Linked DNA regions of Homo sapiens: all the other regions are reported to be linked to region 5. Evidence: microRNA targets listed by miRTarBase, many of them from high-throughput screens and not tested one by one. Region 5 holds a microRNA gene; each other region holds the end of a gene's coding sequence.

Region 1 (4,293 bases), not on the chromosome of region 5:
TGCTCTGCCCTTCTGGTTCTCCTCAGCTAATTTGTTCAAGTTTGGAGAATGCCAGTAGTCACCTGTATCACCAGTGGGCCTTCTCAGATGCAAGACTTAAAGCCAGTAACTTTTAGACCAGTCTCCTGGTTTCTGTGAGCACCAGATCCTTGTGTGGAGCCTAGATGATAAACTACGTAACAGAGGACCTTTGAGGGCTCAAATGCGGTAAACAGCTCATTCTGCACTAGTGCTCTGTCCAGATGGTGCCTCATCACCTTGGACTGCAGCGGTTGGTTTATGTAAAGGTCTCCTCCTCACTCCTTGTTTCTCACAGGCAACTACCATGCTTCATTCACCTGGCACATGACAAGCATTCACGTAGTTAAGTGCAACTGACCGTCAGGTCAGGTCTGGTCTACAGATGGGTTTTATTTTGCTTGCAGAGTATGTAAATTTTTTATTTGTTGCGATCACATCTCGTACAAAAATCTGGATTCCCCAGATTCTCTGGACAATTTTGAAGTTGGGGCATTAGGGTCCATCTTCCTGCATGGTGACAATCAGCACCTAGGACAGGCTGCCCCGTTTAGATGGATGCTGTCCACTGTGCCTGTCCCCATCACTCCCTCCTCTCACATGGGAATTGCCTCAGCTTCCTTCATTGATTTGACCTCCCTGGTCTCTATAGACAGCGGAGTTAGCAGCTCCTGTTGGTGACTTAGGCAGGAATGGAAGAGGTCTCCATCGGCCCCACCAAAACCAGTTGTCAATACATGCCTGTGGCAAAGGCAGCATCTGAGGCTTGCCAGGCAAACAGCAGCTAGAAGACGCCTCTGGAGAGACCCTTGGTCAGCAGGTATTCTAAACAACCCAGCTATTTCATGGTAGTCAATAGCACGGATGTGTGGTTGATTTGGCTGCACTCAATCCTTTTTCTAGTCCAGTCTCTGGTGAAAAATAGGCGAGGGTATGCCATTTGTGCAAGAAGGGGGAAAGGTAGGCACTTGGCTTCACTGAACCACCATCAGGCATCAAGGAAAAGGCTTCTTGGCCTTCCCATCCAAGCAAGCATTCTAATCATGGTCACCAGGAAAGTGGCCAAGACACCCAACAATATAAAGAAAGGGTGGTGGGGGTGACAGCAGGTCATTCCAGGCTGAGGCCAGGGCATGCAGAAGCATGGAGGTGCAGGCTACTGGGGTCTATGAAGGGCCTAAGGATGGGGCAGGAGGAACAGCTGGAGCGATGGCATATGCCATGTTAAGAGAGTAAGCTGTGTGAGAAACCAGGGAGTGAGGATGCAGGGGAACAAGTCATGGCTTGAGGCTTCTGCTTGGAGAAAGAAAGACAATTCACTTTAATAGTAATTCCCAAGATGGAGAGGCACCATCACTCACCCTCATTTTTTATTTTTATTTTTTTTTTGAGATGGAGTCTCGCTCTGTTGCCCAGGTTGGAGTGCAGTGGTGTGATCTCAGCTCACTGCAACTTCCGCCTCCTGGGTTCAAGCGATTCTCCTGCCTCAGCCTCCTGAATAGCTGGGATTACAGGCGCCCGCCACCATGCCCAGCTAATTTTTCTATTTTTAGTAGAGACAAGGTTTCACCATGTTGGCCAGGCTGGTCTGGAACTCCTGACCTCAAGTGATCCACTCACCTTGGCCTCCCAAAGTGCTGGGATTACAGGCGGGAGCCACTGTGCCCGGCCTAGGATTTTTTAAATACGATTTTTTCCCCAGAACGTCAGTATAAGAAAACACGTTATATATGAAATGTATGAAATGGAGCAGGTCTGGTGATGGGGCTCGCAGGGGGCTCTGGGCAATCTTCAGTGTCTTCTTTACGGAGGTCCCCAGCGTCGGAGTGGCACAGGTCGGAGACCGCTGATCTCGAGTAGGACTGCATTTTAAACGCAGAACGAGCTGCCCCAAGATAGAGTTCCTTTTGCCTAAGAAGCCAAGAGCTCCTATAGAGATGAACAATTCCACTTCCTGTTGCCACATTTTTAACTATTTATTGAATGAGGCAGTCAAAGACAGAATGGGAAACAACACAGAATCCATGCTCTGCTACTGGGGTTTTGCTTTTTTCTTCGTCTTGGCAACTTCTCAAACTATTTGGAGGTTATTTCACCACAAAGGAACATGGACTTTAAAGTCCCTGGACAACTTCACAATGACGATAAAAAATAATAATTAAAAAAATAACAAATTGTAGAACTAGGACTATTTATATGTAAATTTCCCTCCCCTCCCCCCATTACGTACAGAAAAGAACATATAAAGAACATTAGATAGTTTTATATAAAACAAGCAAATACAAGAATCTGAAACTTCTCTCAAAGGTTGAGCAAGACGTGGAGAATCTTTTAATGTCGCATTAAAAAAACACATTAAATACACCATCACACACATGGGGAGAGCTGGGAGGAGGGAGGAGGAGCTGTCCCTGTACTCAAGGTTCAGAGATTTGGCCTGTTGAAAAGTCAGGTGAATTCAGCTACTGGAGACTCAGGGCTTGCAGCTGAGAAAGACAGAGTTAACGGTTACCAAGAACACCCAGATAGTCAACACCTCTGAGGAGGCAAGCTGCTCCCGGCCTGGGCCACGAGGTTGCATCAAGGAACATGGGCCTCCAGGAGTCCCTTCTGAAGCAGGGCCTGATCCAGGAACACAGCAAACACCCTCAGCTGTTTTCTATGGCCAGGTGTCCCTTCTTCCCTTCCGCGTACTGACCGGGCCCAACCAAGCTTAGCTTCCAAGATCACACAAGATCAGGGGCGTTCAGGGTGCTGTGGCCACAGACCAGATGTCTCTTCTTGTTCATTCCAGCGCCTCCTCTGTGAAGCTACAGACAGTAGAGAAAATTGCTCCCACGGGTGTATCCTGGTCTAGGACGATTTTTCTTTCCTTCCTTTCCCTTCCACTGCCCCCGCCCCCTTCCCATCCTCTCCCCCACCATGCACGCACACACACAAGCACACTTACACGCACGCACTCCTCAAACCCCTAATACTTCGGTTACCTTCAGTTCATATATACGAGCAATTCAGGACTGACCTTAAAACCAGAGCAACATTTTAATAGTCATGAGATCAAGGATTCCTGGGAAGGAGAGGAGATGGGAGGCTGAGGCCCGGGAGCTTTCAAGACATTCATCTGCCTGTGGCAAGGTCAGCACCTGGGCCAGCCCGAGGAGCATCTCAGCTGGCAGACCACGCAGTCCCTGGACCTTGCAAGCACATCTCTGACCCACCCCATGCTGGAGCCTCTTTCCTCAGGTGAGTCCAGCAGGGAGAGTTCTGTGTGGCCACTGGGAGGCAGCTTTGGTGAAGGGCATGGTCACCTCCGCCTGAGTTTGTCAGTAGCTCAACGCATGACCCTGGTATGAACAAAAACTGGGTGACTGTGTCTGGCCACGTACCCTACCACCCACTAAACTGGGTGAATTATTGTTTCCACAGCGCACCTTGATTTCATACAGATAATTCCATGCGGGTTTCATACATATATATATATATATATGTATATATATACTTTATATATATGTAAATGTGTATGTCCATATGTACACATATACATATATTCACACTCACACATACACACACATAAGTATACACACACATTTCCGCAGAAAGAAGTCCTGCCACAATTTGGCTTTTTTGGGACAGTGAAATTGACAATGCAGTTTCTTCACCAATCCCAGAAAATCAAGAGTGGTGCTTTAAAAAATGCAATTCCAAAATCCGCTTTCTTCCTTTTAAAAAAAAAAAGGTTAACAAAACTTTCCTTCCAAAGTCGAGAGACTTAATTCCATTTGATTGCACCTCTGCAAACGTGTAAAAAATTTTGAAGTAGACTAGAAAACGATGCCATAATATGGCTGTATGTCACTGTTCCAATGTCACCACCTCCACAGCTTGGCCGTCCATGGTGACTGCGCTGTCTGATATCCTGGTGGTCACAGGGGCCATGGCCACCTGCACTGGTCCGTTGCCCTGGGCGAGGCTGGTCACCACAGTCTGGTACATGCTCACAGGGATCTGGACCAGGCCTGGAGAGACAAAGAGAAGACCGTTGGTGGGGCTCAGGCTCAAGTTCCCAGATGCTGGCTGGACGGGGGCACCCAAGTCTTGCCTTTGAGGTATCGTGGTCACCAGCCTCAGGTGATCACATACCCATGGCCCAGGCACAAAGACATCTCTTTCCCACCCCATTAAAATTTTTTTCATTAATTTTTAAGATTTATAATTGATATATAGTAACTGTTCATGTTTATGGGGTACAATGTGATGTTTCAATGCATGTATACA
Region 2 (4,293 bases), not on the chromosome of region 5:
GTAAAACTTTTCCTACAGAAATACAAGGAAGATGAGCCTCTGTTTACAAGCAGCCTTTGGGGTCCATCCTGTGATGAGCTTGATCAAATTGTGGAAAGCTGTCTTCTTCCTGAGCTGAATGTGGGAGATTGGCTTATCTTTGATAACATGGGAGCAGATTCTTTCCATGAACCATCTGCTTTTAATGATTTTCAGAGGCCAGCCATTTATTACATGATGTCATTCAGTGATTGGTAAGGTGATTTTATTTTAAGGCAGATGGGATATTTGAACTGTCCTTTTAGACTTGCTAATAAGTTTTAATTCTGTAATGAATGCTAAACTTAGAAGTACAGTCATGTATTGCCTATACAGTGTAGTTACTTAATGATGGGAATTTGTTCTGACAAATACAACATTAGGCGATTGTATGATGGCATAACCTACTACATAATCTAGGCCATGTGGTATATTGATCCTAGGCTACAAACCTGTACAGCATGTTACTCTGTTTAATACTGTTGGCAGTTGTAATGCAGTGGCGTTTGTGTATCTTAAGTTACTTAAACATAGAAAGGATAATACATTGTGCTATGACATGATTGCTGCGATGTAACGAGGTGATAGGACTTTTTAAACTTCACTGTAATTTTACGGTATACCACAGTCATATGTGTAGTCTTTGACCAAAACATCACTCTGCAGTGCATGACTATCATAGAAAAATGATGATCTTTTAAAGGTTTTTGGAAGACTAGTTATAATCCTGTTTTATTATCCATTTGTTATGTGATTACGTGGTCTTTGGGCTTAAACTGAGAATTTAGCTGATTTTTTTTCTACGTAGGTATGAGATGCAAGATGCTGGAATTACTTCAGACTCAATGATGAAGAACTTCTTCTTTGTGCCTTCTTGCATTCAGCTGAGCCAAGAAGACAGCTTTTCCGCTGAAGCTTAAACAGGCATTAACGCTTCTTTAGATCTGAAGTTGCAGGTTAAGCTTGTCTGGTCAACATTCCAGTGTGGAAAAATAATTTAAACAATCTTATTCTCTTAATTCTTTTGGCAACAAAAACTATTAGTAATAGCTATTTGGGACCAGACAAAATCAGCTTTCATCTATAATTCATTGGGGATAATGGGAGATTTAGATAATGTATCCAGATTTAAACCTACCAGTTTGTCCTACCCCTTAAGCGTTTAAAATAAAATATGCAACAAAATGGATGACTTAGTGGAGATGGAAGCCCATTAATTGGGTTCCCCATTAAATCGTTTACATACAAGAACACAGTTTTTATACTAAGGATTTGTGTTTAAAGTCTTGTAAAGTTCATGTCTTTCACCCAGATATATCAAATGTTAGAAGACCAGTGTGACTTCATTAGATAACGTTTAGTGTATTTAGAATGTGTAAATTTGTGCTTTGAACTGTAGTTTAATAAATGTAAAATTGCATCATAGTATTTGTTGACCTAATGTAACCCTTGTATGATTGCAATAAAATTTTGTGTAGATTTTACTGTTTTTTCAGGCTAAAACTTTGGGAAAGGGGCTAGCTAGCAAAGGTAGTTTTGAAATAGATGTGTATATGGACTGTTTTGAAGGGTTTTTTTCTTTATAGCCCAGTTAAGTTTTGTTTGGCTCGGTGCATTTTTCATTTATTTAATTAGTAATTTAAGTAAAGTGTTTGGTAAATCATTGTGAAGTTCAGATTCATTATGGAGAGTTGATGTGCAGTAAGCATGATGTTTAACAATTTTAACACCAAAAATGTTAATCCTGCATAAATCAACTGTAATAATAAATAGGTGTTTCTGTATAGATAGAATGCATAGAGTACCTTAGTAAATCTTTGAATCACAATCTTTTGGCTGAAATGGAAGATTCTGTTAAATACTTTGAATAAACTTGGGGGGAGGGAAATAAAATTGCAGAAAACTGCAGAGCACTAAAACTTAAAGAAGGGCTACATCTTTATCCAGAAACCTGTTGCTCTTTTGCACGGAATGTTTAAATTCAGAGTTGGGATGGGGGTTGGGGTGAAGCACACTTATTATCTTCAGTTGCAGTGATTTCAAATTTAGGATTTTTTGTTGTTGGTTTGAACTGTCCCCTTAGTTTCTTGTTATTTCCAATTTGTTCTGCTTAGTCATTACTTTTAATTCTTTTCTTACTAAAATTTTATGGTGGTTGGGGGAAGGGAGTTAGCATCACTAACCTGACAGTTGTTGCCAGGAATTTGCTTTGTTTACTGCTAGTATATTAGAAATCCTAGATCTCAGAATCACAATAGTAATAAACAACAGGGGTCATTTTTTCCTAACTTACTCTGTGTTCAGGTGTGGAATTTCTGTCTCCCAAGAGGAAATGTGACTTCACTTTGGTGCCAATGGACAGAAAATTCTACCTGTGCTACATAGGAGAAGTTTGGAATGCACTTAATAGCTGGTTTTTACACCTTGATTTCGAGGTGGAAAGAAATTGATCATGAATCTCTAATAAATTTAAATCTCTTAAACCAGTAGGTGCTTAATATTTTTTGATTTGATTAATGCCCATTTAAATCTCATGGGTTCTATTAAAAATATATATATATAGGGCCCCAATCCATTGCCATCAAATTGCCCTTGGACTTTTCCAAGGTATATTATGGGGTTTTATGCAAAATTCCAAGCTACCATGTAACTTTTTTTAACCATTTAACAAGGAGGGGGAACTGTTTCCTACCTTCTTTACATGTTGTGCATTGTTGTGGTCCAGAAATGCCAAACCTTTTTAAAGATGGTGCAACTTTGAGTCCTTGGCTTGACTATACAGGCCTTGAACTTCATGGCATATCAACTTTGCCATATCTGCAGGAGAGCTGTTCTATAAGAAATAGCTCAGAGTTGCAAATATCACATGTGAATGATACGGTAACTTTTAAGAAATGTCTGTATTGTATTTGAAGACTGTTTGCCATAAATCTGAAATTTGAACCTATGTATTTCAATTTGGTATGCTAAAAAGTTCTGAATTAATGTAAAGTTTTTTGTTATAATATTGTAATCTCAGTTCAAAAGTTAACTGCAAATATAAAACCCAATGATTTCTATATAGTAAATTGAACTGTAAAGGTAACTTGTGTGTGATTCTGAATACATAGATAAATGTTTTTATTCCTCATGTTTTACTTTGGCTTCTATCTGAAATAGAGGTAAAATTTTACATATCAGCTTTATGTGTATTAACAATCTTGCTTTATTAGAAAGAAAATTGATTCTGCTAAAAAATGCTGGAAGTTATATATAGAACAGTGAAATTTTGGTAAAGTCCAGTATATATGTGAGCACTGTTTCCAGGACAGCCTTTTCTAGACACTTCAGTTCACTAGCCTCCTAACAATTTAAAACCCGGACTAAATGAATAGATTGACAAATTAAGCTAGATTTATTCCAAGTAAATATGGGCATTAATACCATTAAATGGAAATACTGGGTTAGAGAAGCCACACATTGCTTAATTCCTTTTTTCTTCTTTTTAGAGTATATATTTTAGTTTCCTAACCTGTCTTGGCCTTAAGAAGTCTTCTGAACTCTGCTGAAATGAAAAGCATCATCTCTTTGTTCTTTGAACACTTTAGTTAACTGGGTGACTTAATATTTTGGGGAGTAACTTTAAATTCAAAGATTTACTTAATTATTCAGGCAATGCACTAGTATAGGGTGGTGGTTAAAGGTGTAGACCTTGCCTCCAGTCTGCTTGACTCAAATCCTGCCTCTGCCATTTACTGTCTGTATGAACATAGGCTAGTCACCTAACCCTTTTGTGCTTCGGTTTTCCCAGATGGAAAATCGTGGTAAGGCCAGGCACAGTGGTTTATGCTCGTAAATGCCAGCACTTTGGAAGGTTGAGGTGAGAGGATTGCTTGAGCTCAGGAGTTCAAGACTAGCCTGGGCAATGTAGGGAGACCTGTGTCTCTCCAAAAAAATTCAAAATTAGCTGGTAGTCCCAGCTACTCAAAAGGCCAAGGTGGGAGGATTGCTTGGGCCCAAGAGGTGGAGGCTGCAGTGAGCCGCGATCACACCACTGCACTCCAGCCTGGGCAACAAAGTAAGACCCTATCTCTAATAAGAAAAGAAAGAAAATGATGGTAGTAAAAGTAGCAGCTTCATAAGGTTATAAGGATGTAACAGTTACAAGGTGCTTAGAACTGGCTGGCACACAGGGCTCAATAAACGACCCTTATTACCTATTAGATTGATTATACTGATTTGGACAAGTTGCTCTGGGCCTTGGTTTCTTGTCTGTAGGATGAAGACACTAGAACT
Region 3 (4,000 bases), not on the chromosome of region 5:
ACCCCATTTTGCAATAAGAGTATAATCTCCTTTGAGAATTATTCCTGAAATCACAACCAGGCTTCTCCCGTCCCCTCTCATCAGTGAACACACTCCTCAAACAGGGAAGCATTCTTCTCATCAGACATTGGCAGAACCATACAAATGTTCAGAGGCAGACTTTCAGGAGGTTCTTTTAAAGTCTAACAATTCTATGAAACATGACAAAGACACTGACATAAGCGCTGTCGGGTTAAAGGAGTCTTTGAAATCTCTTTTGTGATGTGAAATGTGAACATTCTTTGCCTTTTGTTAAACGTTTAGATTGACACTCTCCCCACACACAAAAGGAATATCACATCTTATTCCTACATGCTTTAGATGTTGGGATTAGTAGGTTTCCTGCAATAGATCTGTGGGCATTTGGGGGATGATGCGGTGAATTGCAGATGGAAGATAATGGTGACAGTATTATACAGGTATACTTAATGCTGTTTCTGAATTGAAGATATTTATCCCTTCCAGATTTGCATTTTGTGTTCAACACTGGGACACTGTGTGGGGTACCCTGCGTGACAGTTAATACTGTGTAATGAATTCCACAAGATTGCTAAATTTCATGTCTTCTGTTATTAAATTTTATGGCTTTCATTTTAGTAAGCAATTTATAAAGTTTTCTCACTGATCTCAAAGATTAAAGGCTGTATATACAGCAATTAGCATTATTCTGGCAATAATGCCTAAGATTTATTAGTTCCATTCTTACCTCTTCCAAAAGCATAGAGAAGTTTAATAAATAAATGAGATCTAATGCCCATCTATGATTCAATGAAGGTGTATAACATGTGACAGGCTAAGGCTGGCTTAGCTATTGATCATCTGGTTCTTTAGTTCTATCCCTGAAAATACAGACTGACCCTAAACCAATGTTCCTAGACGACATTAAGTTGTGCCTTCACTGGGTTAAGAAGCACCATTATAACCTCTGTCTCCATTTTGCATCTTTTTTACATTCTGAAGAAATGTTCCTATATACAGACCCTCATGCTGTAGTTCAAGAGGAAATTAGCCTCTGCACATAAGTTTTTTTACTGTGAAAAGCAAAAAGTGTTTTAGCAGCCAGAAAATTCAGAACCAAACTTACTGTCTAAATGTTACTTGCTACATTGACTCGTATAAAACTGTGTACTTCTATTTTACTGTTATGTCTTCTTTAAAGGCTCTGTATTTTGTAGGCCTCTTCAAGACCTTATAAATAGAAATCAAATTTCAAAAACAAAAATGTAGTTACAAGTGACTATAGTTTAGCATACTGTATTATTTGCTATTATAATCTAAAGATTAAATATAGGTTTAACAGCTATTTTAAAAAATGAATAATTTTACATAGAAAATATGCTAACTTCCCTTTTATCATCATAAGATCATAGTTGTTGTTATATTAAGTATTTATTATGCTGTTCAAATGTTAGCTGGTGTAAGTTACCTACTAAAATGCTTATTCAGCATAACTACTGAAAAAACTTAGCTGTCTCTGGTATTAGTTCATTGAATATTATATGCATCAAGTCTTTTCATGTTTCCACGTTATATTTTTAAAACAAGAAACTAGGCTGACTTAAAAAAATTTAAATCATGAATACATTATGTATAGGTTTTTCTGTCTCCTAAATATTATCTACTTTTTTAAAAAACAAAAATTTTGATACAAGAAAGCACTCTGAGGCAGTATATGTGTATTAAATTTAAGGTCACAATTTTCACTAATCTGAGAAAACACATATATGTAATATTTAAAAGTTAATGAAATCCAGTGAAACTTCAACTTATTTCATTGAGAATTTACTAACAAAATATAGAAAACAAGAATTTACCTCTTTTAAATGGCATGTCTGTATTACTTACAATTTGATAAATGAGTTCCTTTCCATACATACCTTAAGATCCACAACCTTGGTGGCATAAATAACATGATTAAAGGGTCAGGTACAATGTATATTTTAATATGGGATTTGTGTAGTGATTTAGAGCATAAATATCACACAGTGAAAAATTTATCACAAACTAAATACAGTAACAAAAGGAAAGAAAGAGCTTATGTCCACATTTCCAAGGTCTTTACAATAAGTTATAGCGTCCAGGTCCAACACAGCATATTTGCATACAAAGCCACTGATGTGAACACTGAAAGGAATCTGTCCTGTAGGTCTTTCATCTTGATTTAATAAAGTTTGTACAGTATCAAATAATATCAAAAGTCTAAAAAACACAATGAGCTTTTATGTTTATAAATTATTGTTTTTATACCATAAAAAAAGTCAAAAGTGCAGTTTAAAAAAAAGTGGAAGTTGTTATTCTTGATAAGAGCTAGAAAAATGTCATGTCCCAGTTAAGAAGCAATCTCAAGGCTCATCCAATTTCTAAGGAATTTTAACTGGCATCTAACCTTGGTTACCATATGCTGTAAGCAAAACCAACAGAATGGGAGCTATGTAACAATCTAGCGAAGAGAAACATTGCAAATAAATGTAATTATAGGCCTCTCCCAAAGTGAATGAAATGATTCTTTACTGGAATGAATGGGCTGTCACTGAATGTGACTATACTTGGTAAACTTCAAAGGCTTGCTAGAAATTTTTATCTTTTTCAAATTTTTAGTCATAGCTGACAATGGTACATATATCCCAGGATTATGAAATTTTCTAGTATAACTGAGAAAAATATAATTGAAAGGTAATAAATCATATCATCTATTATTTCTCACAGAAAATAAGGAATAAGGGCCCAGTAATTAAAAGGCAGAAGTACAGAGATTAGCCAAGAAGAAACAGATGGGTGAAATACAACTGGGTCTTAATTGGCACAGTAACTAGCTGTATTTTGACACACTCAAGAACAAATGCCTATACTGAAGTATGTGGTACATTAACCACTTGTACTTATGTAAGAAAATGAAATGGTAAAACGATAGGCTTATAAAACAAATTAAATTTAGAGAAAGGAAAAATAAAAGGAATGTAAAGAAAAATCAAGTTTATTGTGGCATCAAAATATTGACAGAGCTGTTATCAGTCAAGAGCAGTCTTCTTGTTGCTAAAACGAAGAGGCAGCCTGAGCCTGGCTCCATCCAACCACCTCTTCTAATGCTCTTTAACTGGCAGTGCTTCCTATAAATGACACCAAGCAATAGAGATGATTATTGTTTCCACTGAATAGAGTAAGTTCCTTGATTGGTTTAACATATATAGACTGCCTGAGAGAATAAAAACATCACCATACAATAGGTTAACGGTAAATCAAGGTCTTCGTAGTTGTGATGGGAGAAAAGGGTTGGCTGCTGGAAACAGTATGGTGCCCTGGAGGCTGCGTACGTACACACCCTAAGAATTCACATCACCATTAGCAGAAGATTAGAAGTCAATGGATATGGATGCTTGTGCAGAATCTTCTCGCCCCCTGACATAAATTTCACAGGGAATCTCCTCCATTACTCGGTCTTCCAGGGCCTGCTCAGGGCACTCATGTCCCTGTTTGAAAGTGTAACTACTTTTCTTGAAGGTGCTATTAAATGTTTTCATTGGCTGTGGTTGTGCAAAGTCATTTCGGAAAGGAAGTTCCATGGAACTGAGGTTGGTCCTGCTTTGTTTGACGCTGGAGGCCTGCGACCCACAGTGGTGGTCGTGGATGCAGCGGGAGGCGGTGGAGGAGCGCCGCATCTTCTGGTAGTTGTCCAATTCTTCCGACAAGTCTGCCAGGTCTGCAGAAATCTCTTTGTCCCTTAGTGAAAACAGTTCATAATGAGGAGGATCAAACACTTCTTGGAACCCGGTTTTATTAAAAGCGGTTTTGCAAGCCATGACCTTTTTTCGAGGCTGTTTCACTTGTACTAAAATAGAAATAATGAGAAGGACCAAGACAATCCCTGAAGTAATGCCAATAATTGTTCCATGAGTCTTAGTGATTTGTTCAAATACTCCTGCTTTTTTCTTTTCTGCAGAAAGAAAATGAGAAACGTTAAGTT
Region 4 (4,293 bases), not on the chromosome of region 5:
CAAGAGTTCGAGACCATCCTAGCCAACATGGTGAAAACCCATCTCTACTAAAAATACAAAATTAGCTGGGCATGGTGGCGTGCACCTGTAATCCCAGCTACTCCGGAGGCTGAGGCAGGAGAATCACTTGAACCCCGGAGGCGGAAGTTGCAGTGAGCCAAGATCGCGCCACTGCACTGCACCCTGGCAACAGAGCAAGACTCCGTCTCAAAAAGAAAAAAAAAAGATGCTAATTGGTCCAATGTGAGGAATATTTTAAAAACAAGGGAACAAATTAAGTGCTTCACATATGTTTGGAGAATTGTATCTTAATACATTTTAATTTTCCTTTATCTTGCAGTGAACCCTGGAGGATGGGCACCAGCCTCAGTGTTAAGGGCAGTGGCAAAGCGAGAGTATCCTAAATTTCTAAAACGTTTTACTTCTTACGTCCAAGAAAAAACTGCAGGAAAGCCTATTTTGTTCTAGTATTAACAGGTACTAGAAGATATGTTTTATCTTTTTTTAACTTTATTTGACTAATATGACTGTCAATACTAAAATTTAGTTGTTGAAAGTATTTACTATGTTTTTTGATGTTCCCCTATAGAGTATTGTTTCGTTGGTTTTTGTTGTTGTCGTTGTTGTTGTTTTAAACAGGGTCTTGCTCTGTTTCCTAAGCTGAAGTGCAATGACACCATCACGGCTCACTGCAACCTCAACCTCTGGCCTCAAACAATCCTCTCATCTCAGCCTTCCCAGTAGCTGGGAGTCCCCACAGGCATGTGCCACCATGCTCAGCTAATTTTTTATTTTTTGTAGAGATAGGGGTCTTGCTATGTTACCCAAGCTGGTCTTGAACTCCTGGCCTCAGACAATCCTCCTGCCTCAGCCTCCCAAAGTGCTGGGATTACAGACATGAGCCACCGTGCCTGGCCTTGAAAATTGTAGTTTATAGCCTTTAAAACTTAATTCTTTTATTGTTTCCTTTTTCTTCTAATGCTTATGTAAAGAAATTTTGATATTATAGAACTGTAGAATTGTAGAAGTGCAAACTTCCTGTATTCTTTCCTTTCCCAGAAACTGTTATTTTTGTTGTATATTCCTCCAGATTTTTCTGTGTATGTACTGACATATTTTTGAATGTTAAAATGTTTATACTTACTATTATACAAAATTCTTGTTTTATAACCTTTTTTTCACTTAACAATGTATCTTGACTATCTTTCTTTATAAGACATGAGATGTGTAAAACATCTCATTCTTTTAACATCTGTTACATGCATGTTGCAGAATTTATTAACTAGTCCCATGTTAATGTCTGAGTTGGTTCCATATTTTTACTGTCAACCAGTACAGCACTGAACACCTTTATGCAAAGAGGTAGAATCTTTAACTTTATTTTGGTGTTGTTGAGACAAAGTTTCTCTCTTGCTGCCCAGGCTGGAGTGCAGTGGTGCAATCTTGGCTCACTGCAACCTCTGCCTCCCAGGTTCAAGCGATTCTCCTGCCTCAGCCTCCCGAGTAGCTGGGATTACAGGCGTCCATCACCACGCCCAGCCTATTTTTGTATTTTTAGTAGAGGCAGGGTTTCACCATGTTGGCCAGGCTGGTCTCGAACTCCTTACCTCAGGTGACCTGCTCTCCTGGGCCTCCCAAAATGCTGGGTTTACAGGCGTGAGCCACTGCACTCAGCCCAAAATCTTTAACTTTTTAAAGTAAGTGATACGTTAACATGATTAAAAGCCAAAAGTGGCCAGGTGCAGTGGGTCACACCTGTAATCCCAACACTTTTTGGGAGACTGAGGTGGGAGAATGGCTTGAGGCCAGGAGTTCAAGTCTAGCCTGGATAACATAGCAAGATTCCATCTTGACAAAAAACAATTAGGCGTGGTGGTATACATGTATAGTCCTAGGTACTTGGGAGGCTGAAGCAGGAAGATCGCTTTGTCTGGGAGTTTGAGGCTGCAGTGAGCTGTGATTACACGACTGCACTCCAGCCTGGACAGGTAATGTCTGTCAAAAAATAAATAAATAAAGTCAAAAGTATGAAAAAGTTATACAGTAAAATTTACCCTGTCTTGCATTCACCATATAGTATTAACATATGCTATTACTAGTTTCTTCTAGAAAGTTTTTAATGCTTGAATGAACAAATACAAGTGTATTTTCTACACAGATACACTTTTTTTGTTGTTAAAGAAGCAGCAGCATACTATAAACACTGTTCAACATCTTATATTTGCATTTATTTTATCTTGAAGGTCTCACATATTTGTAAGGAGCTTCCTCATTTTGATGGTTATACAGTATCCCATTGTATAGATGTACATAATTTATTTAATCAGTTCTGCATTGGCGAATATTACAGTTTCCAATTTCTGCCAGAGCAGTGTCATAATTGTATCCATATGTCATTTTGTACTTGCAAGTTTATATGTGGGAAAATTAATAGATGTGGTACTACTGGCCCTGCTAGGGGTTTGTGCATAATTTAGATACTACTTTTCATAGAGGTTATAGTAATTGACCATCTCAACAGCAATAATGAATTGGAGTCCCTGTGTCCCACAGTTTTTCATACAACGTGTAAAACAAAACTTTATAACTTTCCCAACTCATTAGGTGAAAAATACTCTCTCAGTGTAGTTTTAATTGTATTCCTCTTCTTATGACTGAGTTTAAGCCTGCTTTAGTCCATTGAGAATCTTTTGTATAGTACTATTTCTATAAATTCTATTTTGTAATAACATTTAAAATATTAGTAGATATTGCCAATTGTGATACACAAATGGTAAGCAATAACATGAATATTCTCTCATTCTCACCTACACTGGATGTTAAATAATTGACTGAGAAATGTATATTCTTGAGTCCTTTTCTTTAGCTAAAAATAATAGTCAATTATATAATGAAATAATTTTAAACAAGTCTGATTTCTAATGATGTTTATAGTATGTCTTTCTTTTAAAAAATGCAAAAGCTAAATTTATTGTCCGATACTAACTAATATCCCATACTAACATAAGGGATATTGCATTGATGTCTCAGTTGTTTAGCTTTATCCCAGGAAAAAGGGTATTTGAAAATATTAAATAGGTTCCAGTCTTAGTTACCTGAATGATTGGTGTTTTGGAATATAGCCTTACCCTTTAGGGATTCTCTCTTCAAGCACAAGTGCACTGCATTCAGTGTGCTGACAATTTTTATATCTTGTACTTTAGAATTGTTATAGCTAGATCTGGACACATTACTTCTTATCGATTCTGAGTCTGTGCCATATTTATCAAATAAACCAGAAAACTGATGGCACGTGACAGCAACAGGCTTATCACCCTGCTTCGCTGTGTGTCTCTTTGCCATGGCCTCTAGGGTTTTTAAAGTGGTGCTGTTTCACTCTATCCAAGACCAGATTTTGTTTCACTCTAACTATATCTGCCTTCTCTCTTCTTCACTATGACCTCACTGAAACGGCCTCCCTCTTGATGCTTTATGATGACTTCCTTACCAAAGGTTCTCAGATATTCAACCAAGCAAGGCAGAAATACAACTTTGTATTAAAGCAAGAGAAATCTGAATGCAGTTGTGTGTAAAACATGCTCTCAATTATATTTGAGAAGAATAATTTTTTAAACAGTTGAAAGATAAATGGTAGGATATTAGCAGCATTTGCTTCTAGACTTGGATTTAGAGCGGTGTTTCATTGACTCTCTGTGTGTGTGCATGTGTATGTTCACAGATTTTTCATTTGTGGACCTGGGAGGGAGGAGCTTGGAATCTGAAAAAATTCATCTCTGGGGAAGAGAGGTCTATTGTTTGTGGGTACATGTATATGTGTGCAAAGATACAGCTGAAAAGATTCATTGGCCCAAACTCAGATTTGGCTTTTTGAGTCCAGATTGAGCTTCTTTCTAACAAAGATCCAAATTCAAACCTTAACATGGTAAAATCTTTGTTACTGTAACGTAACTTTTTTTTTTTTTTTACAATAATTATGGAAGATAAATGTATGAAGTCGAACCCAGCATTGAAACCCTAGGAAAGCGAACATTCTTAATTTTGGTGATGGAAAAAAATAGTAACATTCAATAATGTGTGTATCATCTTTAGAGAAAGTTCTGTAAAGAGTTAATAAGATCCAAAGTTGTTTAACAGTAAAAACTTTATATATATATTATATATAATATATATTTTTATTTATTTTATTTATTTATTTATTTATTTATTTATTTATTTATTTATTTATTTATTTTGAGACAGCATCTCACTCCTGTCGCCCAGGTTGGAGTACACTGGAGCGATCTCAGCTCACTG
Region 5 (4,293 bases):
GCCTGAGTTGGCTGAGGTGGGGTCGGGCTCGTGGAAGAACTGCCATTTGGTTGGGCTTCAGAGAGATGTAAGCAGACACGGGGTCTGGGTGGAGGAGTAGTGCCAGCAAAGGCATGTGGACAATGCACGGGGTATGGAGGGTAATCTCTTAGACTAGACTAGCTCACACTTGGAGGGAGCAGGGGAGCATGATGCCTTGAATGACTTCCTAAGGAGTTAGGACTTCAACAACTGAGTTGCAGGGCCCCGTCTACACTGGGGTTCAGGACTTTAGAGGACAACCGAGCTGTCCTGCAGGGCTGCTGAGGGTTCTGCCCTTGTCCTTTCCCTGGAGGCTAACAAATCATTGCTTTGCATTCCATTCACATGGGATAGTTGTGCCATGAAAGGGGATGGAGAAAATCAAGGAAGACCTCCTGAAGGAGGTGGAGAGGTTAATCAGGAGCTGGAGGAACGCACTGCCCACTCAGCTCTGTGGTTTGAGTCTCCAAAGGTGGTCTAGAGCATGGCGAGGACCATCGGAACTTGGGTGAGCTAGGGAAGTTTTTACCTAGAGGTTGAGGGTCCCCTTTTATATGATGAACTGTGCTCTTGGAGTGTCCCATTTGCCATGCAGAACAAAACACTGCCCTTTATCTTGATGAAGAGATAGTTGACCACATAATGGCCAAAGCATGGTCAGTATTGTACATTTTGCCTTGTCGCAGTCTTTCCAAGTTGACATGGCCTTCCTGGAGGAATTACCACTTAGGGTAGAGGCACCCCTTCCCCCATCAATGCCACTGCCCCACATTGGAGGAGGGGTTGTTTATGTTCACCATGTGCCTGCTTCCAATGCCAAATCCAGCCTCAGAAAGCTTTCTGGAAGTGACGCCAACTTCAGGGGCAAGGCCCTGGTTCTGGGGTCAGCACCATTCCGTGGTTCCTGAAGAGATGGTAGACTATGGAACGTAGGCGTTATGATTTCTGACCTATGTAACATGGTCCACTAACTCTCAGTATCCAATCCATCCTCGGAGGGCTTCCTGGAGGTGTTGCCAACTTCAGGGAAGAGAACACGTGGTTTAGCTTCAGCACTGCTCCACGGCAATTTCTGTGGCTCATGGTTGATGTCTGACTTGTGCAACAAGGCCTGGCTCTTCTGGGCACTAAATGCACTCTCTGGGGAGTTTTCTGGAAGTGATGCAACTTGGGCTCAAGACACCGGTTCCAGCCTCAGCCGTGGTTCTGGAAGAGATGATTTGCCATGTGGCCTGTGCGAAAGGAGGGATTTGTGTGAGATGGGCTACCACTTCCCAGTAGCCTGCCAGCTTTGGAGGGCTTCGTGGAGCCAATACTACCTTCAGGGGGACCCACCAGTCCATCCTTCATTCCGCTGTGTGGCATTGAAGAGTTGCTTTCCTGTGTTGAAGTTTTCTGTTTATACCAATGTCCACCTCTGATCAATCTTACATTCAGTCTCAGGGTTTTCCGGAGGCAGTGCCAAGTCTGGGAATGAGACAGTGGTTCTGTCCTTAGGGAGGTGGTTGACCAAAACAACTCCTGCTTTGTTCATGAAGATGGCATGGTGGTTACTGCTCAGAATCTAATCCAACCTAAGAGGACCTCCTGGAAATGCCCTTGGTATTGAGGCAGATATGGCCTTAGGGCACTTTTTTTTTTTTTTTAATGCCCAAGACTAGAGCTCACTAATAGGTAAGATCTGGGCCTCAGGTGCCCAGTACTGTTTCCTTGGCCTGGTTAGTGTAACTAGATGGATGTTCTTTGGTTGCACGTGGGCCATTTTGTATTTCTGATTTTCTCCCCACTCCCCTAACCAGCTCTGTTAGCCATGTGCCATGTCCTCCCTCCCATCTACCCACTCCTTCAGACCCAGCACAGTGCGCCTGGCACACAGCAGGCACTTAATCAGTATTTATGGAGTGATGAAATCCATATCATCGTCCACTTCTTCTCAGTGGGACTTTCGGCCTCGAAGGGCTTCCTGGAGGAGTTGCCAGTTTTGGGGATGAGCCACTGCTTCGAGCATTCATGTCAACCCCCGACCATGAAGACGAGACTCCTGGCCTGTGTGTGCTTGTCGCATGATGCATGTGCTGTGCTCAACCTCCCTTCTGGTTCCACCCAGCTCAAGGCCTTGGAGGGCTTTCTGGATGTGTCCTGAGCCTTTGTCCTCGGCATCTCTGTGTGGTACTTGGAGAGATAGTAGACCGTATAGCGTACGCTTTATCTGTGACGTATGTAACACGGTCCACTAACCCTCAGTATCAAATCCATCCCCGAGGCTCCTGGAAACAACGCTGTCTTCGGGGAGGAACGGTTGGACCCACCACCACTTCTCCATGACACCCGAAGAGATGATTTTCTGTATGGCATGTGTTTTTCTGCATGATGCAAAATGGCATAATCTCGCTCCTCTTAAATCAAGTTCTGCCTTGGGAAATCGCGCCATCCCTGGGGAGGAGACCTTGATTCTTCCCGGAATCAGTGCCATTCCATGGTGCTCAATGACGTGGTTGACTACGCTACGCTTATTCAGTAGACACCGTGACCTGCTTCTTCTCAGCGTCAAATGCAGCCTAGAAGAAGCGCCCTCAGGCAACTTCGTGGACATGAGCCTTCTTCCAGCCACCACCACCACCATCGTGCGGTACTTGAAGAAATGGTTTACCGTCCCACATACATTTTGAATATGTATGTGGGATGGTAAACCGCTTCTTGGTATCCAGCCCAGCCATCCAAACCTCCCTGGAGAAAGCCTGGAGTTAGAGGAGAGCCACGGGTCTCGGCATCCGCCATGCCATGGCACTTGGTGGAATGGTAGACTCTTAGATGTGTGCTTTCTCTGTCAATGCTTGTGATGCGGTCTTCTCCTCAGTGCCAAACACAGCCTCCAGTGACTTCCTCAGGACAAGGATGACCTCCAGGAAGGTGTCCTACTGCCCACGTTGGCACATCCCTCTGGAGTAATTGAAGAAACGGTGGCTGGTGCCGCAAATGTTCATGAACGAGGGATGTGAAACAGGTCACCTCTCATCCTCAGAGCCCTCCTCAGATGACTTCAGGACAGTACGCCCATGTAGGAGCAGATATGGGTCCAGGAGATGATGCCACTCCAGGTACTTGAAGACGCACTGACTCGTTTTTGTCTTTGCTGATGCGTGTACAGTCTATCTTTTTTCCATCTCAAGTCTAGCCATCTCGGGGGAAGATGTCCCAGCTCTGGACTCAGCACTGATCCTCATGAAGAGCTGCTCGACCCCATCGTGTATGTTTACAGAGGAAGTGCCTCCATGGCCCACTTCTTCCCTATCTCCATCCCAGAACCCTTGCTTGGAGAACTTGCTGAAGAAGCTGCCAGCCTCAGGGACAGAGCACTGGTTCTGGCCTCTTCACTGACCTCACGGTACCTGAAAAGGGTTCAGCCACACTGCATGTCTTTTCCCCATGACGTATGTAACATGGTCTACTTCTTTTGAAGTATCCCATTCAGCCTGGAAAGTCTCCAGGGAGGTTATGTTAAGCTTAGGAGACAAAGCACCAGTTCTGGTACAAGTACTGCCTCGGGGTACTTAGTAGAAGTTGGCCATGCTTCATATGTTTTACTTACAACGCATGTTACTTCGTCCACCTTCCTATAACAGCGTGCACCTCGGGGGGCTTTCTGTAGGCAGGAACGAGTGTCAGTCATAGCACTAGTTCCAGCATCATCTCCATTCTTGAGGGGCTCCTTTGTGCTGCGTCCACTGCATCTGCGGCAGACATTGCATGGTGGCCTCTTCTCAATACTACATCAGGCCTCAGAGGGCTTCCTGGAGGTGATGCTAGTGAGAGGAAAGAGACACCGGCTCTGACCTCAGCCCTCTCCAAGGTACCTGAAAAGATGGTTGACCATAGAACATGCGCTATCTCTGTGTCGTATGTAATATGGTCCACATCTTCTCAATATCAAATTCAGTCATAGAGGGCTTCCCAGAGAGAGGCAAAGTCACCTTCGTGGGAGACACACTGATCTGGCTTCAGCGCCATTCCACAGTACTTGGAGAGATGGTAGAGCATAAAGCATATGCATTGTTGAATGACAGATGTAGCATGGTCCACTCATTCTCAGTATCAGCCAGCCCTGGGGCTTCCCGGAGGCCATGCCGACTTGAGAGCCAGGCCTGAGTGGTAGCCAGGGTGCAGTGCAGGTCACCGGGTGGTTGGCTGCAGACCCAGTCCTTTATTTATTACATTGGCCATTTGGTCCACCAGCCAAGAACTCAGTACCGGTCCCACCCTTACAGGGCATCC

Evidence for each region. Region 5 holds the annotated microRNA hsa-miR-411-3p (UAUGUAACACGGUCCACUAACC, at 2,239-2,260, shown strand). A microRNA usually pairs through its seed, bases 2 to 8, with sites in the 3' UTR of a target mRNA and lowers its output. Matches are read on the target gene's strand: a 7mer-m8 pairs with bases 2 to 8, a 7mer-A1 pairs with bases 2 to 7 and ends in A, and an 8mer does both.
Region 1: miRTarBase lists NRF1 as a target of hsa-miR-411-3p. Seed matches in the 3' UTR shown: 7mer-A1 at 3,526-3,532 and 7mer-A1 at 2,214-2,220.
Region 2: the mRNA of AZIN1 is a reported target of hsa-miR-411-3p. Seed matches in the 3' UTR shown: 7mer-A1 at 1,257-1,263 and 7mer-A1 at 3,188-3,194.
Region 3: miRTarBase lists NETO2 as a target of hsa-miR-411-3p. Seed matches in the 3' UTR shown: 7mer-A1 at 2,920-2,926, 8mer at 2,469-2,476 and 7mer-A1 at 1,763-1,769.
Region 4: miRTarBase lists CERT1 as a target of hsa-miR-411-3p. Seed matches in the 3' UTR shown: 7mer-m8 at 1,255-1,261.

What each region holds. Positions count from the first base shown.
Region 1 is chr7:129,754,759-129,759,051 of GRCh38, reverse strand. It overlaps NRF1 (nuclear respiratory factor 1), which reads right to left. Exons shown (of 11, transcript NM_005011.5): 11 at 1,976-4,034. The coding sequence ends at 3,871. It also overlaps the pseudogene RNA5SP244. Among named protein-coding and RNA genes, the nearest start is that of MIR182, 14 kb to the left of the region's middle.
Region 2 is chr8:102,825,212-102,829,504 of GRCh38, reverse strand. AZIN1 (antizyme inhibitor 1) reads left to right here. Exons shown (of 12, transcript NM_148174.4): 11 at 19-233; 12 at 827-3,197. The coding sequence ends at 938. Among named protein-coding and RNA genes, the nearest start is that of GASAL1, 20 kb to the right of the region's middle.
Region 3 is chr16:47,079,832-47,083,831 of GRCh38, forward strand. NETO2 (neuropilin and tolloid like 2) reads right to left here. Exons shown (of 9, transcript NM_018092.5): 9 at 1-3,970. The coding sequence ends at 3,390. Among named protein-coding and RNA genes, the nearest start is that of NETO2, 62 kb to the right of the region's middle.
Region 4 is chr5:75,375,521-75,379,813 of GRCh38, reverse strand. CERT1 (ceramide transporter 1) reads left to right here. Exons shown (of 17, transcript NM_001379029.1): 17 at 341-2,039. The coding sequence ends at 468. Among named protein-coding and RNA genes, the nearest start is that of HMGCR, 40 kb to the right of the region's middle. RefSeq lists a silencer at 1-144.
Region 5 is chr14:101,021,137-101,025,429 of GRCh38, forward strand. It overlaps MIR411 (microRNA 411), which reads left to right and starts at 2,189; the gene lies at 2,189-2,284. It overlaps LOC124903407 (mucin-2-like), which reads left to right. Exons shown (of 5, transcript XM_047432049.1): 5 at 1-4,293. MIR379 (microRNA 379) reads left to right here and starts at 930; the gene lies at 930-996. It overlaps MIR299 (microRNA 299), which reads left to right and starts at 2,658; the gene lies at 2,658-2,720. It also overlaps MIR380.